5 separate regions of the Homo sapiens genome follow, and regions 1, 2, 3 and 5 are each reported to be linked to region 4. Evidence: microRNA targets listed by miRTarBase, many of them from high-throughput screens and not tested one by one. Region 4 holds a microRNA gene; each other region holds the end of a gene's coding sequence.
Evidence for each region. Region 4 holds the annotated microRNA hsa-miR-623 (AUCCCUUGCAGGGGCUGUUGGGU, at 3,180-3,202, opposite strand). A microRNA usually pairs through its seed, bases 2 to 8, with sites in the 3' UTR of a target mRNA and lowers its output. Matches are read on the target gene's strand: a 7mer-m8 pairs with bases 2 to 8, a 7mer-A1 pairs with bases 2 to 7 and ends in A, and an 8mer does both.

Region 1 (4,000 bases), not on the chromosome of region 4:
GCTGCGCGTGGATGCGAGTCCCAGCTGTTTGGGCCTCGCAGACTTTCCCATCGCTCCTCCTCTGGGATACCTTGGCTCCATCCGCTTTGGGGTTTCCAGTCTTTGTTGGAGTCAGGACTCTCAAAAGAAGGGAACGCGTTATAGGGGCCCAAACTGGATTTGGGGACTGCAAAGGCGAGCAGCGCTCGTTCAGTTTATCTCCTGGGAACGCACCAGGAGTTGGGCACACGCGGGAGCTGGGTCGGTGCTCCTGGCAGGTAACGGCTTGTTCCCGGTGCAGACGGCAGACTGCGGAGGAACGGGAGGCCGAGAGGCAGCAAGCGAACCGCATCCTCCTGCAGTTGCAGCAGGAGGCCTTCCAGAAGAGCCTGGCACAGCCGCTGCCCGCTGACCCTCTGTGCGTGCACAACTCGTCGCTCTTCGCCCTGCAGAATCTGCAGCCGTGGTCTGACGACTCGACCAAAATCACTAGCGTCACGTCGGTGGCGTCGGCCTGCGAGTGAGCCTGCCCATTCTGCCCTGTGGGACCCCAGGCCCACTCAGGGGTCACTGAGGCCTGAGACCCAGGACTCCTCCCCACCCTCCTGGCCTCAGACTGCACCCAGGAGGGGAACACTGCCCTCGCACGGCCCCGAAGGGCCCCCACATTTGTGCCGACACTGTTCTCCCTTCGGTGGAAGAGCTCAAGGGACAAGGACACGCGCCCCCCTCCCAGAGGCGTCCCGCACCTGTCTGAACTGTTAAGAAATCTGTTTTTGTTTATTTCATTTTATTTTAATTTTTAACGTGGGATTCAGAGAAAGGCAAGGGAGGTAAGGGAGGAGGAGCTTCTGGGGTCCCCAGGGCTGTCATCTGAATTTGCCCTGGGAAACCCCTTCTCTGTGACCCACTTCTCATCACACACATGGAAACCCATAGGCCCACACACAGGTGGTGTCACTGTCCCTCCTGGTGTCACCCCAGAGCCACACATGGGCATCTATGGGAGAGTGTCAACCAGACAGAGGGTCACAGTGTTTACACTTTGGACCTTACGATCAGGCACAGGTCAGGGGTGACACAGACTCATCCTGAACAGCATGGCACTCCCTCCAGCACAAACACAAGGTCATGGCCACACTGTGACACACTACACCACACACAACAGCCAACAGCTACAACAGCCTCACTTGGTCTGCCAGGCCCCCACCACACATCCCAGCCCAATCCAGGTACGCACAGACAGGTTTTCACATAAATGCAGCCCATTTCTCCAGAACCCATTTGAGGGGTGGGGGGGTGTTAATTTATGCACTTATAAGGTGTTTTCTGTGTAACCATTTTATAAAGTGCTTGTGTAATTTATGTGAAAAAAATAAATAAAAGCCTCCGGATCCGGAGTCAGGGCTGCCTGCTCCTTGCGGACCCTAGCGTCCTTCAGCTACTTGGGTTTGGTGTGTGAGCTGATGCTTCAGGGGCAGCCCTTGGTACCTGAACTTGAGAGACATGTTGCGGGGCAGGACCCTAAGGCTCTGGAGAGAGGAAAGGAAGAGGACAGATGGAGAGAAGGCAGAGTTGAGGAGAGCAGGGAGAGCCAGGCTCTCCTGGGATTACCAGTGCCTGAGAGGATGTGGATTTCTTTGGATGTGAGAGTCGTGTGTGTGTGTGTGTGTGTGTGTGTGTGTGTGGTGTGTTTGTGATAATGTGAGCAATCAGCAATGCGAGCAAATAGTGAATATTTATAATGGTATTTAAGTGTATAATTGTGTTTGCAATTCTTGCGTGTAAATGCTTGTTTCTGCTTAAGTTGCAAATCGAAACTATCATTGTATGCACGGGCTTGTAGTGGTGTGTGTGTAACCGTATGTGAATGTGACTGTTTCTTTTTGGGTAATTGTGTAATCAACCATTGTTTGTGATTATGTATGAATCGTGTTGATGTTTGGGAGAATATGTATTAGTTTCTCTTTGTAAATCTATTTTTCTGTGAAATGTGTGACTGCTTCTGAAGTGGATCATCTTGAATTTTATGGGTGTAATTGTGTGTGAGATGTAATTATGTGTGAGCTGTGCATTTTCCCTGTATTTACTTGTGTGTGACAGAATGTAATTGGGGGAGTAAAGGTAGTGGGGAGTGTGGATCACTGTGGGAGACCATCACTGCAAGTGGGTGGGTATGGTTCTGTATGAGTGTGTGTAATTGTGTGCTGATGGTGTATGTGTTGGTGGGAGTCTGTTGTGCGATACGCAGATACATTGTGGCGGGACCAACATCTGCTGAAGTTCTGGGGCTCTAGACGCTTACCCAGCAAGCTGCAGAGACTGGGGCACATTGAATCAGAAATTAAGGCCAGAATCCTCTCTGGTGCTGTAAGTGGGACCTACCAGTTCCCAGCACTAGCCTGGCCTAGGAGAGATCTAAAGAATTGACTTTCTGGGAACCTCCAGGAGCCCTCCAGACCACCCTTGCCAGACCTGCAGCCACAGTACACATGCACACAGGCATAACAGCCAGTCCCCAGCCTATTCGAATTATCCTAGACAAGACTGACTTGGGTCTGCTTTTCTGGAAGAAGCTGTGTGGTGGAGGGTCTACAGAACTCATCACCCTAGGGGTGAGTTGAAATGGAGGGGTAAGAGGCTTTTTCTCTGGGATGGGAGAGTGAGAGAACTTTTCAGCTGAAAGTGGAAGTTCGTGGTGTGGGGGTCACTGGAAGCTCTGCAGAAGTGTTTGCGGGATACTGAGGGTGGGGAGCCACCCTAACTGTCAGAACCACTGTCCCCCAACCCTGCCCCTGCCCGGCAGCCATGAGGGCTGTGACACAGGTCGTGAGCACAGCAACTTCCCACCCCAGCAAGCCCATGGGGAAGTTCGGCTGAGTGGAGGGTGGGCTTGGTCATCCACCCCCTCATCTGGGGTCCCCTGGGATATCCGCATAAGAGGGGGCTTCTGTCACTCACTTTGTGTAGACATGAAGAAAAGAGAAAAAGAGGGGAGGGTTCAGGGTCCGAAGACAGCAGCCAGCCTTTCCGCCCCATCCCCGCAGGCCCGCGGAGTGCTCAGGTTGGGCCCTGACGAGCTGTGTGGAGCGTAGTGAGCAGGTTCTGGCGGCAGCGCCGGGTCTGCTGCAGGTCTCCCGCATTCACCGGCTGTGGCACCCAGCGCCAGGCCGCGCAAAATCCAGAAATAGCCTCCAGCACCTCAGAAGTCGTCTCCCTCTACCTGGGCAGGTCTGCTGTCCCCTCTGCTCCCGCAGGACTGGAGCCACCGAGCTCGCGCCTTCTTCTCGGGGTGCGATTTCTCTCCTCTTTTGGACTCAAGATCAATGCTTCCCGGCCGGCGCAGATCACACAGCAGGACCCCAGGGGAGACTGTGGCCTTCTTCCCGCCTCCCAATTCCCCAAGACCGCCTCTAGAGGCTGCTGTGTCCGGAGAACTCCGAGCATTTTCTGGACACAGATTGCCTAACAGAGGAACAGGGGTTAGGTGGGGAGCGGCTGGCCGGCCCAAACACAGCAGCCCCAAGCTGGCTCCCAAGCCTGGGCTCTCCACCCCCGCTCCCATCCTCTCTTGAGCACAGTTAGGCCCAACACCCCTGTCCCCCAAAACACCTCCTACCCTCCCTCCCCCCCAGCCCCCATCTTCAGGAACATCACAGGGCTCACACTCACTAACCGCGGAGAGCACATGCAGGCCGGAGCCCTCAGCCCGGCAGCTCTCGGACCCTGCCCAGCTCGACGCGGACTCATGCAGAAGAGGACATTCCGCAGGTAGGTACAATCCCAGCGCTGGGGCCTGGGGCGTCCGGGGGGCGGCCTTTGAGCTTCCCGGATACCGCTCGCCTGCTCCCGGAGCTGTTCGGCCGCCGGCTGCCCGGGTCGTGCACTTTCAGTAGGGCCCCGCTGACTCTCCTGCCCTTGGGCTAGGCCTCCCGGGGATGCCAGACTCCTGGGGACGCTGGGACCCGCGGCGCGGCGGGACACGCAGGACTCCCGCCTCTCCGCCCGGAATTCGTTGAGA
Region 2 (4,000 bases), not on the chromosome of region 4:
TCAGCTGGGTGCGGTGGCTCACACCTGTATTCCCAGCACTTTGGGAGGCTGACACGGGAGATTCACTTGAGCCTAGGAGTTCTAGACCAGCCTGGGCAACATGGCAAAACCCCGTCTCTACCAAAAATACAAAACTTTGCCAGGCATGGTGCACATCTGAGGTCCCAGCTACTTGGGAGGCTGAGGTGGGAGGATCACTGGAGCCCAGGAAGTAGAGGCTGCAGTGATCTGTGATTGTGCCACTGCACACCAGCCTGGGTAACAGAGCGAGACCTGGTCTCAAATAAAAATTTTTTGAAAGAAAATTATTTTTTTAAAAAAGGTATGTGTCTACCTCAGTAACTGGTGTATTATTAGATGTTGAAGTGAAGTTATTCACCACCCTACTGCCCCAAGCGCACTTACTCATATGTAAGTTGTGTAATATTTGTTTCCTCTTTGTTTTATGGAATCTCTTGAGGGGGAAGAAAAAATCAGCAACTATTATGCTTTTCTTGAAACTCCATATATAGCTGGGATGATATTCCTGCATTATGGATTCCTAGAAATGTTTTATATGGCATCTTATTGTCCACAAAAATGACAACATAGCAGTAAATGAACAGGAACATCATAAGTTAATTGTTAATATGATGAACGCGTTAGTTATAGAAGTCGTTAGCTTTCTGTAGTCTTGGGATTCAGGCTTTCTTAATTCACACCACCCAGGTTTAGAGGGCCTATTACTATTGAGTAGGATAAAGAACTTCTCTGTTGCATGAGATTCATAAAACCTAAGAATTCAATTTGGAGTTCTTTAGTTGGTCCCACTTAAAATGTACAGCTTGCTTAGCTAGGAGGAAGGATCAGGTTGCTCTAGGTAGTTGAAGTCCCTTTTAAAAATAATTGCTACTCTAAAGAGAAGAAGGAATTAATGAAAGTGGTTCATAAAATCATTGATTTCTTTTATTTTTTGTTTTGACATGAAAGCAGAATGGACATTAGCAGCTACTATATATGAAGGGCATTTTGCCTGGTATAAGTATATTTTCTTTTTCTTTTTTTTTTTTTTTTTTTTTTTTGAGACGGAGTCTTGCTCTGTTGCCCAGGCTGGAGTGCAGTGGCATGATCTCACTGCCACCTCCACCTCCCGGGTTCAAGCGATTCTCCTGCCTCAGCCTCCTAAGTAGCTGGGACTACAGGCGTGCGCCACTGTGCCCAGCTAATTTTTGTATTTTTAGTAGAGACAGAGTTTCACCATGTTGGCTAGGCTGGTCTTGAACTCCTGACCTCAAGTGATCCACCCGCCTCAGCTCTCAAAGTGCTAGGATTGAAGGTGTGAGCAACCATGCCCGGCACAAGTATATTTTCATGGGTTTAGTCCTCACAGTATATCTGTGAGGTGGGTTGGTGGTATTTTCATTTTACAGAGCAGGAAATTGGGTCTCAGATAAGTTAATTTTAAGTAACTTTCATGAGGGCATATGGTAACAAGTGGCAGAGCTGATATTTATTATTAGTTAACTATTTTTGCTGTTTGTATGTGTAAGGGGTGGTTTTTTTTTTCATTTTTTTTACATGTAAAATGTAAAAATATTAGACATCCACATCTAAATGTAAAAATGATATTTCTTTTTTTTTAAGTCAGAAAACCAGTTTTCTTTTTTCTTTTGCTTTAGTCAGAAAGCCATAAAAACCATATTTAAATAGGATCAACTACTGTTTTTTAACATAACTGAGATTTGAACCGAGATTAATTTGGTTCCAAAGCTTATGCTAGGCCTTGGAGAATACAAAGATGAATGAAACCCCATTCATCTTGTTGATCTTGCAGACTAATGGAAAGGATTGACATGTGAGTTCATGTAGTACTCTGTTAAAAGTTAGATAGGATTCCAGATGAGAATGACAATGCTGGGGAAGATTTTTCCAAAGGAGGTAGCCTTTGAGTGAGTCAGATAGTGAAAAGTGAAATGGTGCCTGGTAGAGAAGGCATACATAGGCAGTGACAGGGTATGGAGCTAAAACCAGTCTTCTAGAGTTTTTCTCTGTAAGTTGTTAATAGACATTTTAAAGCAGAGAGGAATGGAAGAGTGGAATAACGATGATGGTAATAGTTTAAGAAGCATTTTGGACCAGGCATGGAGGCTCACGCCTGTAATCCCACCATTTTGGGAGGCCGAGGCGGGTGGATCACTTGAGGTCAGGAGTTTGAGACCAGTCTGGCCAAGATGGTAAAACCCTGTCTCTATTAAAAATAACAAAAATTGGCTGGGCATGGTGGCCGATGCCGGTGATCCCAGCTGCTTGGGAGGCTGAGGCAGGAGAATAGCTTGAACTCTGGAGGCGGAGTTTGCAGTGAGCTGAGATCATACCACTGCACTCCAGCCTGGGCGACAGAGTGAGACCCTGTCTCAAAAAAAAAAAAAAAAAAGCATTCAGAAGGAGATGCTAAGGGAGGTTGGTGGTATAAGAAACATCTTTTAATTTAAACATATTTCCCATTAAAACCACCTATTCAACTTTCATGTAAATCTTGTAAAGAGACGTTTCAATATTTAGTGTGAATATTTTGTTAATTAGATGTAGCAGAAAAATAACGCTTTGATGGGCAAAATTGCTGTTCAGATGATCTTGAAATAAAGAAGTTTTTAAAGCAATTTTTATATACTTTTTATTATTTAGCAATACATGTTTATCATAGAAATTTAAGAACCTAAGTAATACAAAGAAAGTAAGGATTACCTTTAATTAAGAACCTAAGTAATACAAAGAAAGTAAGGATTACCTTTAATCAATAAACAAAGATAAACTTTTGGAGGGAGCATATACCATTCCAGTCACTAAGTAAGGTTTTAATATTCAGATTCCAGAATTCTGATCAATCAATGGCTATGTTTCACACTTCTTTAAATTAAAAAATTTTCTATCTTTACATATTTTAGTGACTGAATTACCATGGCGTAATTGAGAGTTTGGATTTATTATGGTACATTCCGATTTCTATTTAATACATAAGGTACCTGATTAAAATTTTAGCCTATTTGGTTAAATACTAACAATACAGGTTGCTATTACTCTTGTCTTACTACCAATTAGACATTTCTCAGAATGCTAAAGCAAGAAGGAACCTTAAAAACTTATCTGGCCGCGCCCAGTGGCTCATGCCTGTAATCCCAGCACTTTGGAGGACAAGGCGGGCGGATCACGAGGTCAGGAGATGGAGACCATCCTGGCTAACATGGTGAAACCCCGCCTCTACTAAAAATACAAAAAATTAGCTGGGTGTGGTGGCGTGTGCCTGTAGTCCCAGCTACTTGGGAGGCTGAGGCAGGAGAATCCCTTGAACCCAGGAGGCGGAGATTACAGTGAGCCGAGATTGCGCCACTGCACTCCAGCCTGGGCGAAAGAGCGAGACTCCGTCTCAAAAAAAAAAAAAAAAAAATTGTTTTCCTTCTCATGTTACAAATGTAGATGCGATGTGTTTCTTTCAAGCTTTTGTTTCCAATGACATTAGTTTAGGTTTTCTTTTGTTTAGCTCTCACTTGATTGCAGTCTTCTTTCTTTCAGGTCAGACTGTTTTTCCATCTTTCGGCCAATGGTACAAAAAAAAAGGAAACTGAAGAGAGGAGATAGCATATGCCAGAGAAGTAGAAAGAGCCATTGTATGTCTGGGTATAATCATATAACCAGCCTGGAAGGAAGGAATGATTTCTGTTAGGGAAGGAAATTTTGCCATTAGTAACTCTCAGCCATGAATAGCTCCTCAAAGCAAGGAGCCTCCTGTATTGTGACCCATTTGAACTTAGTGAAGCTTCTTAGCTGCCCTATTTTTCACTGATGAAGTTGAATCAGCTCCACCTGAGTTAGGGACTTACACCATCTCCAATCTTACAGTGGAAGTTGGAGAAAATTAGGAACACATACCGTTTTATTTTACCATGAATTTTATTAGAAGGCCGCTATTATGAAGAAAATAATCATAAATTATTGTTTTCCAGAGAAAAAAAGAAGTGATAAT
Region 3 (4,000 bases), not on the chromosome of region 4:
GGAGGCTGAGGCAGGAGGACTGCTGGAGCCCAGGGGTTCAAGGCTATAGTGCACTATGTGCCTGTGAATAGCTACTGTATTCCAGCCTGGGCAATATAGTGAGAGCTCATCTGTAAAAAAAACAAGCAAACAAAAACTAAAGATGAGTGGGACTTTGCCAGATTGGCAAGGAGGCAGTAGTTTGTGGAAATATATATATATATTTTGAGACAGGGTCTCACTCCGTCCCCCAGGCTGGAGTGCAGTGTGCAGTCACAGCTCACCGCAACCTTGACTTCCCAGGCACAAGCGATCCTCCTGCCTCAAGCCTCCCGAGTAGCTGGGATTACAGTATTTTCTGGTGGTGGCGGGGGTCGTTTTTGTTTTTTGGAGACAAGATCTTGCTCTTTTGCCCAGGATGGAGTGCAGTGGCATGATCATGGCTCACTGCAGCCTCAACTTCCTGGGGCCAAGCGATCCTCCCACCTCAGCCTCCTGAGTTGCTGGGACTACAGGTGCATTCCACCTAATTTTTGTATTTTTTGTAGAGAGGTCTCACTATGTTGCCCAGGCTGGTCTCGAACTCCTGGCCTCCTGGCCTCCTGCCTCAACCTCTCAAAATGCTGGGATGACAGGCCTGAGCCACACCTGGCCTGGAAAGGCCTTTGGATCACAGAGGATTCTTTCCAGCTCATAGGTTTGCTGGACATTTCTCACCTCACTTGTAATTATTTGTTCAATGTCTATCTCCCGCATAAAAACAGGTCAGGGACTTTGTCTTGTTTATCTTTCTATCCCAGTATGCAGCACACAATAGGTGCAGCTGTTGAGTGAGTAACTATCCTCAAGAAGCTCTTCATGTGTTAGGTGCTCAGAGACGGGTTGCTCAGAGAAGGGGATTGTAACTAACCCAGACGAGGGTCAGAGTAGGCTTCTTGGAGGAAGTAGTGCTTGAGGTGTTTTGACAGAGGAGATTAACAAGGGGTGGGTAGTGGTGGAGGAGCATTCCAAGTAAAAGAAACGACATTTAAGGAGCCCAGGGCTGAAACTACACAAATGGAAGGGCTTGAGTGCCAATGAAAGTTAGGCTTTGGGGACAGCATGTGGAGATCCACTGGGGTTTCAATGGGGGAGTGACATGGCCAGATGTAATTTTAGAAAGCAGGCCAGGCACGGTGGCTCATGCCTATAAATCCTAGCACTTTGGGAGGCCGAGGCGGGCAGATCACCTAAGGTCAGGAGTTTGAGACCAGCCTGGCCAACATGGTGAAACCCCGTCTCTACTAAAAATAAAAAAATTAGCCAGGCGCGGTGGCGGACGCCTGTAATCCCAGCTACTAGGGAGGCTGAGGCAGGAGAATCGCTTGAACCCGAGCGGAGGCTGCAGTGAGCCGAAGATCCTGCCACTGCACTCCAGCCTGGGCGACAGAGTGAGTGAGACCCTGTCTTGAGAAAAAAAGAAAAAAGAAAAAGAAAGAAATCAAGAAAAGAAAGTGGCCAGGCGCGGTGGCTCACGCCTGTAATCCCAGCACTTTGGAAGGCTGAGGCGGGCGGATCACGAAGTCCGGAGTTCGAGACCAGCCTGACAAACATGGTGAAACTCCGTCTCTACTAAAAATACAAAAATTAGCCGGGCTTGGTAGCGCGCCTGTAATCCCAGCTACTCAGGAGGCTGAGGCAGGAGAATCGCTTGAACCCGGGAGGCGGAGGTTGCAGTGAGCCAAGATCGCGCCACTGCACTCCAGCCTGGGCGACAGAGCGAGACTCCGTCTCAAAAAAAAAGAAAAGAAAGTTCACTGCAGGTCGTCTTGGAGGGCACACTGGTAGGGAAGGGAGCTAGGAAAACCAGCAAGAAGGAACTTCCAGAAGCCCCAAAGGGCTCCGCTCAGGCCATCAAGAGCCCCAGCCCTGAACGCAGGGTTCTAGGGTTTTGAGAGCGCATCAATTTGGAAAGGGCGGGCGGAGCGGGAGGAGCCGCACTGCAGCCAGCCCTGGTCGGTTTCTAGGGAAGCCAGGCCAGTGCTTACGATCTCGCGAGAACCCGTCCAGGGATTCTTTCCGCACGGAGATCGGGGAGAGCCGGGGGCGGGAACTTGCGACCCTGTACTTCGTTGCCTTCATTGTTTAGCGGGGAGAACCGCCCTGGACTTCTTTTTTCTTTAATCCCTGGCCGATCAGGCCAGTGGTTGTGAAAACGCTAGGGATTGCAGACCTGCTTCCCAGGCCCCGCGGGGCGCCGGGAAATCCGGCGGGCTTTTCTGGGGGTGAAGGAGCACCGTTTGCCCTCCCTTTGGGCTGTGCAGCCGAATGACTCATTTCCCGACGCATAAAAAGGGTCTCGGGTGTCGGGTTTCCCAGGTCCCGGTGGGCGGCGCGCCGGCGTCCGGGCTTTCCACGCCGGTTCCAGACCTGTGGGCTGCCTCCCGCCGACAGCCGTCGCCATAGCAACAACGCCCCCCACACGCCCCCTCTTCCTCCTCCTTGCTGCCTTGTCTCTGCAGCGCCGCGCGGTTTTCCTTTTAAGGGTCGCGCTGGATGCTGTGGCGTAGGTGGTGCCTGCGGGCAGCCAGACCTCAGGCCTGGGGCATCGGCTGATGGAGCTGGCGGCCGTTTTTGAACCAGACGTCGGAGCTAGAAAGCCGCTGACTACGCCAAGACAACCTCTTTATTTAATGGGCTCAGAGAGCAAGGGAAGCACACAAAATTTACAGTCTGAGTTTTGCGCGCAGAGACCCCTCTCCACCTTTTTCATGCCTGTGTGTACACACACACTGTCCAAGCCTCAGAAGAGAAGCCGTTTATTGGTAAAAAGACACATGGAAATGTGGCTGCCAGGCCTCAGAGCATCCTGCCCTTTTCCCAAACAGCTGGCCTCTGCTATCCACCAGGACTTGGGCTTGGCATCCAGGCTGGATACCATGAGAGCACCTTCTGTCTCTGGTCTATTCTGCCAGTGTCTCCGTGTCAGGGTGGGTTGGCTCCCTCCAGGGCACAAAGGTCTGGGCTCTGTCCAAGAGTGCCCCTCCATAGGGGTGGGTACCACCATGCCACACAGCAGTATTTGCCCCATCCGGATGATCAAGATACCCCTGCCTCATCCTGTTACCTTAAATTCCAGAAGCCCCATCTCTGCAGCTCAGAAGGTAAACAAACCCTGGTTCAGGCATTGGTCTCCCAGAGCAAGGTTGGGAGGCATCAGTGGTGCAATCAGCTCACTGCAGCCTCAAACTTTTGGGCTCAAGTGATTCTCCCACCTCAGCCTCCCAAACTGCTGGGATTACAGGTGTGTACTACCTGCCCAGCAAGGGGAAAGTGTCAGTTCTTAACAGATGAGGCAGCAGGAATTTAGGGTTGAGTCCTTAGGTGAAAGCCAGTTTATTTATTCAACAAGTATTGAATGCCTACTGTGTGCTAGGCAGTCTTCTAGAAGCCAGGGGTACAGCCCGTCCTGGCAAGGTCCTGACTCAGCCCAGCCAGGACAGTTTCCTGAGCTTCAAGGTTACTGTCTCCAATCCCTATTTCTATCTATTCTTCCTCCCCTTTCTTCCCTTCCTTCTCCCTCCCACCACCTCCCAGGCCCTTTCTTCTCTGCTAAGCGGCAGAGCCCCTCCCTTTGGTCTCCTGGGCCTCCGCCCTCCCTGGACCGCGTCATTCCAGTCCTGTTGCTGCCTCCTGCTTGAGGGGCCTTGCCCTACCATCCCCTATCCCAAAGGGCGTCAGGACCAGGTGCCCACGCTGGTGCTTGATGCGGGCAGAACTGTCACCAAAACCCTTGCCACACTCTGCACACTTGTATGGCTTCTCCCCCGTGTGTGTACGCCTGTGTTTGACCAGATCTGAGCTCCGGGGGAACTCCTTCCCACAGAAGCCACACACGTGGGGCTGGCTGGGTCCAGAAGGCTGGGCCCGAACTCGGGGTCGAGGGGCCATGGGTACTGGGCCAGGTGGGTTATGTGGCCGCAGCAGAGTGGATGGTGGTGGTGGCCGGGCCCGTTCACCACGGTGGGTGCGGAGGTGCTTG
Region 4 (4,606 bases):
GAGAATTAAGACAACCTCCCTGCCTTTTAGAAGCTCATAGTCTGGTATTTTAATAATGAAACACTTTTTCCTTTTTCTTCCAGGTTATCAAAGCACCCTTTGTTAGATCCAGTGGATCCTCCTGAGCGCTCTGTGACCTGCCTTCTGGCAGCACCAGGTCTTACTGACCACTCTTCCTCGACATTCTCTTCCCCAGGCTTTGTGGCATCCCGCTTTCTTTCTAGCCCTCTAGCTACGCCTTCTCAGTGTCCTCAGATTCTCCTCCTCCCACTCCTGTCCTTCAGACACGGGTGTTCTTGAAGGTTCCATGTGGGGAGTGTTTCTCTCCTTCTTCCGTGTTCTGGGTGCCCATCCATTCCTAGGGCTTCATGGGGTAGAGACTCCCAAACTCGAACCTCCAACCCAAACACTGTGTCTCAGAGCCATGTAACCCACTGTCTCCTGAACACACTTTCATCTAAATGTTAAGGAGACACCTAAGATAGAACACGTCCCAAACAAACTCATCTCCCACCCCATATCTCTTGCTGTGTCCCCTGTCTTGGGGTGTGACATCCACATCCATCCACTGCATAAACCAGATCTCTAGGCTCTGTCCACTGGAACTCCCCCGCCACTGTCTCCACCCTCACTCTCACTGCCCCGTGTGAGACCACAGTCCATGGCCGGGGTGGCTCCAGAGTTAGTTCCTAAGATACAAATCTCGTCAAGCCCCTCCTCTACTTAGAAACCCTTTGCTGGCTCCTCATTGCCCTTTTATTAATTTAAAAATATTTAATAACTCATTAACAATCACAAGCCTATTACTTGCTAACATAAATATAGATTTTTGAAATAAAAAATAACCATGTTTTCCCAAACAGAATTACTGAGAAGAGTGGCACTGTTTTCCATTTTTGCAAATCTCTTTAATGTCTGACTTACTAGAAGGTTGCTGGATTCTCCCATCTGCTTCTGCATTCGATTTTGTTCTGTTACTCTGGTTTTTGAAGTACATGAAGCAAATCCAGCCACATAGATACACAGTTAGAAAAGAAAGGGAGAGTACATTAAGGGCCTTTTCGGATGACTACAGACATCCTCCCCTTTGATGCTACTCAATGCATCCCTGTTGCTTTCAGAATCCGACAGAAATTTCTTACCTGGGCTTACCAGACTCCTGTCTGCCACTGGAGTCACTTTCTCACAACACCGCCCTCACATTCTCTACTCCTGCTGGGGAGCCTGCTCTCACCACCCTGTACTCCTCTGCGTGCTCTCACACCTCACCATCCCTTCCCCAGGACAGCTCTCAGCACATCCCATTTCACTTGCAGGCTAACCGGCCTGAATCTCACAACAGCCTATTAGCTCCACGGGGACTGTGATTCTCCATCTTGTCCTGTTTGTAGACCTGGCCTCCTGTACGACCTGGCATATGCAAGCACTCAAGAAACAGTTGCAAAATGGATAACTGAATGGACAAAGACATAGTGAGGCATATTGCTGAGTTAAGGCGTATGGGGTTTTCTTAGCCAAGACTGTAGTTAGTTGGGATATGAAGACCCAGGTGATGGGTTACTAATGAAGGCGGGGTGGAAGGGGTGAGAGGGGTTAAAGCAAGGAGGCTCCCAAAGGACATGCTTGATACCTACATTCTTCATGGACATAGCATCCTCTTCTAATACAAGAACCAGGAGTTACAAAGAAGCAATGCTGGGAAACTGGTGAAACCACAAATGGCAGCTCCTCATAGAAGACAGTTATTTGCAATTCCCTGTGCTCTGTGGAAGCTGCAGCTTTTGGTGTAAGTATGAATATGCTTACACTTAGTTTTACTCATTTGCCTTCTATGCGTAGTGCGCTGTCCTGGGGCCAGATAAGGAGGCTGTGACACAGAGAAATGACTAATTTCCTATGGCCCTGAAAAGAGTTTGGCTGAGATAACAAAACAAACGTACATTAAAAACTAAACAAGAAGCACTTCAGGACTGAACGAGAGGCATCTTGTTAGACTTAAAACTGTAGTCACGTGTCGCTTAACAACAGGGCTTCATTCTGAGAAATGTGCTGTTGGGTGACTTTGTTGCTGTGTACTTACAGAAACCTAGATGTGATCGCCTACTACACACCAAGGCTGCTTGGTGTAGCCTATGGCGACCAGGCTACAAACCTGTACAGCAAGTCACTGTGCTGAATACTGGAGGCAGCTGTAACACAATGGTAGTTGTGTATCTAAACATAGAAAAGACATAGCAAAAATATGGCATCATAATCTTATGAGACCACTGTCATACATGCAATCTGTCATTGACCAAAACATATTGTTATGTGGTGCATGACTACAAGAGTGAGCACAATACAGAGAGAAAAGACACCACAGAGGCTGCTGTCCTCAGCAAAAGCTTTGTGGCAAAACTGGGGAAAAACCAAACAAAGCCCAAAAAAAGAAAACCAAACAAAGCCCACCACCAGAACCACACACAAACTGGCAACACATTCACCACTTGGATAAGAGATGGGGCAACGCGAGGCCCAGAAGAAACCATGCTGCATATTTGAAAGCCTTGGTTCCTTGGTAAAGTCTTAAAAATAGGAACCTTAGAAAACTCAGAAGACTGAATCTAACCCTGTCATGTGAAGTGCCACCCATGATCTTTGTGTCGTGCTATAAAAACAGTGTATTGTATCTTTCTGTGCTGCTTAGCAGTAGTCTCAGTAGGTATTGGAAAAAATAATAAACTAGAGGGAAAGGAGATGATCGCTTGAACAAAGTCCCAGGCTAGTTTTGCAGCTCTCGGTTTCACTTTTCCTTTGTGGTTTCTCACAGTGACCAGTGTTGATGGATGAGATACTTCAAACAGTACTATTTCTTCTAGGCAGAACAGAAGGCAGTTTCCATGGCAATACGATCAGGAGACACAATACATCCTGTTGCTCAGTTTTGAGAACCTTTTGGCTTAGGGGACAGAAGTTTCCAACTATCGGCTGCCCTCTGCCCCGTCTCTTCTTCCTCTGTCTTGCTCTAGTCGGCTGGAGTCCCAAAGGCCACACGCCTTGCCTGTGCATTCCATGCAGGGGCTAAAAGGGTCAGGGCCACAGCTGGTGTTCCAGGGACTGATTGGGGATGGCAATGAGGACAGAAGGTGCAAAGACATCTACAGAGTACATCGGGAAGCTCCAGCACAGCTTAGGATGCAACCCAACAGCCCCTGCAAGGGATGCTTCTACTGTGTACAGTCTGACAGACATGTGTCCCAAGTCTTGTTTACTTTAATGACATTTCTTTTCAGAGGCCTGACATACCTAGCACAGCTGATCTTACTGTGACATAGGTACAATTTTACAAACAGGTTCAGTTGGTTTCAACAGCAGCTGCAAACCCAAGAGAGACAGGTTTTCCCTTTGTTTCAACAAAGCACGGCTCCCAGCCAGTTCCATCTGGGGAGGCCCTGGAGGTGCAGGGAAGGGACTCTGGAGAGAGCCATGGGATGCACATGGCTCAGCCATGCACCAGGGCGTCCAGTGGGTCTGTGCCGCCGCTGCCCTCCAGGCCCCCTGCACAGAGTGGGGTGAGACTCTGGGCAGCTGCGGGGGGGCTTGTGGCACCAAGCACGCTGCGGGCTGAGCCACAGGCCTGCGTCCTGGCTCTCGTTTGTTTTGAAAACGTGACTGACCCATCACTCCTCATGGGGAACTTTTCCTCCAGGGACCGTCAGGACCAGAGGTGTCCCAACCTTTTCCTGTGTTTTGGTTTGGTTTTGGTTTTGGTAGAGAATGAGAATGCTAAGGCTGCTCTGTGAGGAGGAGGTGGTGGTGAGAGGGTGGCGTGGGGGGACCACAGGGTTCCACAGCCCACAGCCCAGCTGCAGGTCAGGGACATCAGCGCAGGAAGAGCATGCCAAGGCCTTGTCTTGCAGCTTCCTCACTCCCTCGACTGAGTGACACACCTGTAAGCACTGAACGCTGGTGACGGTAAGGGCCACACAGCGAGGACTGAGACAGTGGCCTTGAAGACATAAGAATGGAAGTGCATCTCTCAGAGTGTGGATTATCCATTTCTGCATCGTATATTCTGTTTTCCCTTCCTTCATTCTTTTGTCTGCCAAATTTGGGGTCATTTTTTCCTTCCCAGCATTGGCTCTACACACAAATTATAAAGTAAAAGTCAAAATTAAAATTAGTTTTGGTACTTGTTACAGTAAATGTTTTGACAGAAACAGAGGTGAAACTCCTAATTAAAAATGAGACTGGGGATTACTCAAGGTTTCCCCTCTTCTTACATTTCCTCCGTGGAGAGTTCATCCATTTTCATGTCTTCAGTGACCACCTGAGTCTCATTCCCGCACTTGCCTATCTGCGTTCACCGTGGCAGGCGGATGTCCACTTCCCAGCTCATGTCTGGACTCAGCTCTCCTCTGTCCATCAAACCCAGCCAACGCTGAAGGACTACTGATTTTCCCCTGGGAGAGGATCTGCCCGTTTAGGTCCTTGCTGTTGCACTCCGAGATTATGCCAACAACTTCTTGGATGACATGACTGCCAGTAAGATTTCCCCAATCCAATCTGCATGCCACGGTCAGTGAGTGTGCACAAGAAGCCCTTTCACAATGACACTGCCTCAACC
Region 5 (4,000 bases), not on the chromosome of region 4:
GACATGTCAGAAGCATTACTTCAGGCTTTGGTTTTTAAGTAAAATAGCATCTAATCCTCTACTGAGAACTCATAAGAAAACATTCCTTATATGCTGTGGTCTTCAGTTATACAAGCATTTTAAAAACAGGAGAATGAATATAAATCTTAAATCAGGCATTAAACCCAGCTGAATTGTTGGAAGGAGGTAAGCCTGAGACCATTCCTGGACAGCTTTTACCAACACCCATGTAAAGGGGGAAAGGGTGGGCAAGACGTGTGCAGCAGTCTGTATGGACAGCTTACCAGAGACTGAGGGCTGAGGCAGAATCGTGATTCCTCTGACCCAGCAGGGGCCTCCTGACACCGTCAGTGCCTTGGAGATGTGAATACCCACCTCACCGCCTGAACGGCCTGTTTTTGCAGTTGCCCCCATGTAGCAAAAAGTAGGATGCACGGATAGGACTTCAGGGGTCTGGAGAACATGTTTTTGCATAAACCCCAGCTTTGCTCTACTGTGGCACAGAGCTCTGGAGCCTGGTTTGTGAATGAGCCTAGCTGATTCTGGCTTTTTCTCCTTTCTTGCTCTAGGGGATGGACTGAACGGACAGTTCCAGAAGTGTGACTGGCTAAAGCTCGATGTGGTCACAGCTGTATAGCTGCTTCCAGTGTAGACGGAGCCCTGGCATGTCAACAGCGTTCCTAGAGAAGACAGGCTGGAAGATAGCTGTGACTTCTATTTTAAAGACAATGTTAAACTTATAACCCACTTTAAAATATCTACATTAATATACTTGAATGAAAATGTCCATTTACACGTATTTGAATGGCCTTCATATCATCCACACATGAATCTGCACATCTGTAAATCTACACACGGTGCCTTTATTTCCACTGTGCAGGTTCCCACTTAAAAATTAAATTGGAAAGCAGGTTTCAAGGAAGTAGAAACAAAATACAATTTTTTTGGTAAAAAAAAATTACTGTTTATTAAAGTACAACCATAGAGGATGGTCTTACAGCAGGCAGTATCCTGTTTGAGGAAAGCAAGAATCAGAGAAGGAACATACCCCTTACAAATGAAAAATTCCACTCAAAATAGGGACTATCTATCTTAATACTAAGGAACCAACAATCTTCCTGTTTAAAAAACCACATGGCACAGAGATTCTGAACTAAAGTGCTGCACTCAAATGATGGGAAGTCCGGCCCCAGTACACAGGGGCTTGACTTTTTCAACTTCGTTTCCTTTGTTGGAGTCAAAAAGAACCACTTGTGGTTCTAAAAGGTGTGAAGGTGATTTAAGGGCCCAGGTCAGCCACTGTTTGTTTACAAAATCAGGTAACTAACTGCATACACTTTTTCTCTTTCCATGACATCAAGACTTTGCTAAAGACATGAAGCCACGGGTGCCAGAAGCTACTGCGATGCCCCGGGAGTTAGCCCCCTGGTAATAGCTGTAAACTTCCAATTTCTAGCCATACGCTCAGCTCATCCATGCCTCAGAAGTGCATCTGGAGAGAACAGGTTTCTAAGCATAAAAGATGAAAGAGCAGTTGGACTTTTTAAAAATTCAGCAAAGTGGTTCCCTCTCTTAGGGACAGTCAAAACCAAGTCACTTAGGTAGTACCAAAATAAATAAGGAAAAGCTTAGCTTTAGAAACAGTGCAACACTGGTCTGCTGTTCCAGTGGTAAGCTATGTCCCAGGAATCAGTTTAAAAGCACGACAGTGGATGCTGGGTCCATATCACACACATTGCTGTGAACAGGAAACTCCTGTGACCACAACATGAGGCCACTGGAGACGCATATGAGTAAGGGCACTGACGGACTCATGATTTCTTCTTACCAGATGCTTTCCTGTTCTTTAAGAGTTTAAAATCATCAGAAAGGAAAAACAAACTCTATATTGTTCAGCATGCAATACATACCACGCTAGGGCTGGCTCAATTGAAAGTGGGCAAAAGCTTACAAATACTAAAAAGAAGTGCTGCCGCGCAGTGTGGAGGCCACTGTTTGGAAATAAATCTTCCTAACACTACGACTTTTCATGTTTTGGAGTGGACTTTTAAAAAAGTTTTCCAACCACAATGGAAACAGGTTGAACCACACTGCGCCTACACATCCATCCATACGTCAGCCATTATAATCAGATTCTCACTGGGGGAGGCATTTTCTTCCCAAAGGAGCTGTATGCAGTCATCACCCGGAACTAATGGGAAAGTGTTCTTAAGCAGCAAGTGACTCTGGACCACCTCTCTCACACACTGACTCTTCCACAGCATCTTCACCTGCTTCTGTTTCACTTGAATTCATACAGTAGGCCACCATTTTATAACAGGTCTTAGTGTAAATTCTTCCAGACCAAGTCTGAGATAGTCTTGGTTGTAAAGCAAGACCGTCACCCCTTCTCCCAAAGCCAACATTATAAAAAGATTCCATTGTCTCAAACACAAATGTTCCAGTCTTGAGCACTTCCCAGCCATGGTGACTCGGGCATATCCTGGCAGTTGGTGGATTTTGCCCTGTAACACAATCCTTGTGGATATGATTCAAAGGTGACTTTAATTCAGAGAATGTGTTTTCCTTTCTGTTTTAAAAATATTTGAATTAAGTGATGGAAATTCTTTTGTTAAACATCAAAAGCTTTCTCCTTGAAAAGATGCTTGGTGTATCTGAAAGTCACGTGGGACATTTGGTGCATTCAGAAGGTCAAATCATTCCTGACCTCTCCTCTTAGGACCCAGCATTAACTGCTGCGATACTCAAGGCTTCCTTAAAGGATCACAGCACTGGCGCCTAGTTTTACTGTCCAGCAACTTTATTAGTTGTGCTAGCTGAGAATTGGAATATAGAGTCCTTTGAATGTTACGATCTTGTTTTCAAAACCTGGAGTCAAACCAATTAAGTATGGACTTAACAAAGACAATTGATGATGTGAAATGATACCACCTGTCAAGGGCATAGTTACCATGTGGATAGAAAGATGAGTCCACTGATTATCTTCAAATCCCATGTATTCTCTCTAGCACGTTGCTTCTGACAGAAAGAATAACTCACAGATTTGAAGTTTGTTCCTTTCCCCTGATGAAGAGTAGATTGGCCAAAAGGTAGATGACAGGAAGGAAGAGGAGCCAGAATGACCCACAGTGATCAGTTCAGCAGTGCAGAGCGGCAGTGCAGAGGCTCATGGAACTCACACGGAAAAAGGAAACACATGCTGCTTAAAATGCACGATAACTTAATTATCCAAATTACCATTCAATTCCGGTATTTTTGAGATGAAAGCATTTGAGCCAACACTAAATTGACCTTAATTAAGGAATGAGGTAGGAAGAGGCACTTTTAATCTGGAGGAAGAAATAAATGGAAGACTGTAATAGGAAAAATACAGGTCTAGGAAAAAAATAATTTTTTTCCTTTGATGCTGGCCAAGGACCCCTCTACATAATACAGTTCTCCTGCTGGAAAGCATCAGGGCAAACAGAGTTATTCCAAACTCTGCAACAGGGAAGACTGTACTTTGACCTTCTTTTCCTGGGGAAAGGGAACAACTAGTAATCTTTAAATGTCAAAACTTTTCTTCTAAATAGTACATTCATTAACCAGTTTCTTCTGGTGGTGCAAAGAACACTCACCACAGTGAGCAATACCACTATTCAATTTCCCCTTTGGAGAGGTGACAGCGGGGTAGAATCACCTGGAGTCAGCTGCTAGTCTTTAACTGATGACAAGGCCTTGCAAATACCCCTGAGAACAATTTCACTCTGAGCTCACAGGGAAGCAGCAGTCTGGTGTGGGCTCCTGTGGTGTAACCATCAAATGTGGAAGACCTGATGGTGTTAGTGTGTGGGGATGCCGGGCTGAAATTCAACAGCCTTGCAAAAAGAAAGGGAAGATGGGATGTGTTAATATTGTAGTGGCATGCACTTTCCAGCTCTCCATGGAGCTCTCTTTATATATGAGGTAATTGAATGTCACTATTCTGTACCATACAGCAGGTATTATCTAGCCAAGGTTA

Region 1: the mRNA of TLX1 is a reported target of hsa-miR-623. Seed matches in the 3' UTR shown: 7mer-m8 at 685-691 and 7mer-m8 at 805-811.
Region 2: miRTarBase lists SLC16A4 as a target of hsa-miR-623. Seed matches in the 3' UTR shown: 7mer-m8 at 3,319-3,325.
Region 3: miRTarBase lists ZNF48 as a target of hsa-miR-623. Seed matches in the 3' UTR shown: 7mer-A1 at 3,524-3,530.
Region 5: the mRNA of BID is a reported target of hsa-miR-623. The part of its 3' UTR that is shown has no 7-base or 8-base seed match.

The regions. Positions count from the first base shown.
Region 1 is chr10:101,136,411-101,140,410 of GRCh38, forward strand. It overlaps TLX1 (T cell leukemia homeobox 1), which reads left to right. Exons shown (of 3, transcript NM_005521.4): 3 at 281-1,379. The coding sequence ends at 503. It also overlaps a transcript of TLX1NB not described here. Among named protein-coding and RNA genes, the nearest start is that of TLX1, 7.1 kb to the left of the region's middle.
Region 2 is chr1:110,360,221-110,364,220 of GRCh38, forward strand. SLC16A4 (solute carrier family 16 member 4) reads right to left here. Exons shown (of 9, transcript NM_004696.3): 9 at 2,637-3,673. The coding sequence ends at 3,546. Among named protein-coding and RNA genes, the nearest start is that of RBM15, 23 kb to the left of the region's middle.
Region 3 is chr16:30,398,735-30,402,734 of GRCh38, reverse strand. ZNF48 (zinc finger protein 48) reads right to left here. Exons shown (of 3, transcript NM_001214909.2): 3 at 2,627-4,000. The coding sequence ends at 3,628. Among named protein-coding and RNA genes, the nearest start is that of ZNF48, 5.3 kb to the right of the region's middle. RefSeq lists an enhancer at 3,419-3,962.
Region 4 is chr13:99,354,742-99,359,347 of GRCh38, reverse strand. MIR623 (microRNA 623) reads right to left here and starts at 3,217; the gene lies at 3,120-3,217. All of the region lies in intron 7 of UBAC2 (UBA domain containing 2), which reads right to left. RefSeq lists an enhancer at 2,951-3,190.
Region 5 is chr22:17,732,161-17,736,160 of GRCh38, reverse strand. BID (BH3 interacting domain death agonist) reads left to right here. Exons shown (of 6, transcript NM_001196.4): 6 at 570-2,023. The coding sequence ends at 581. Among named protein-coding and RNA genes, the nearest start is that of MIR3198-1, 30 kb to the left of the region's middle.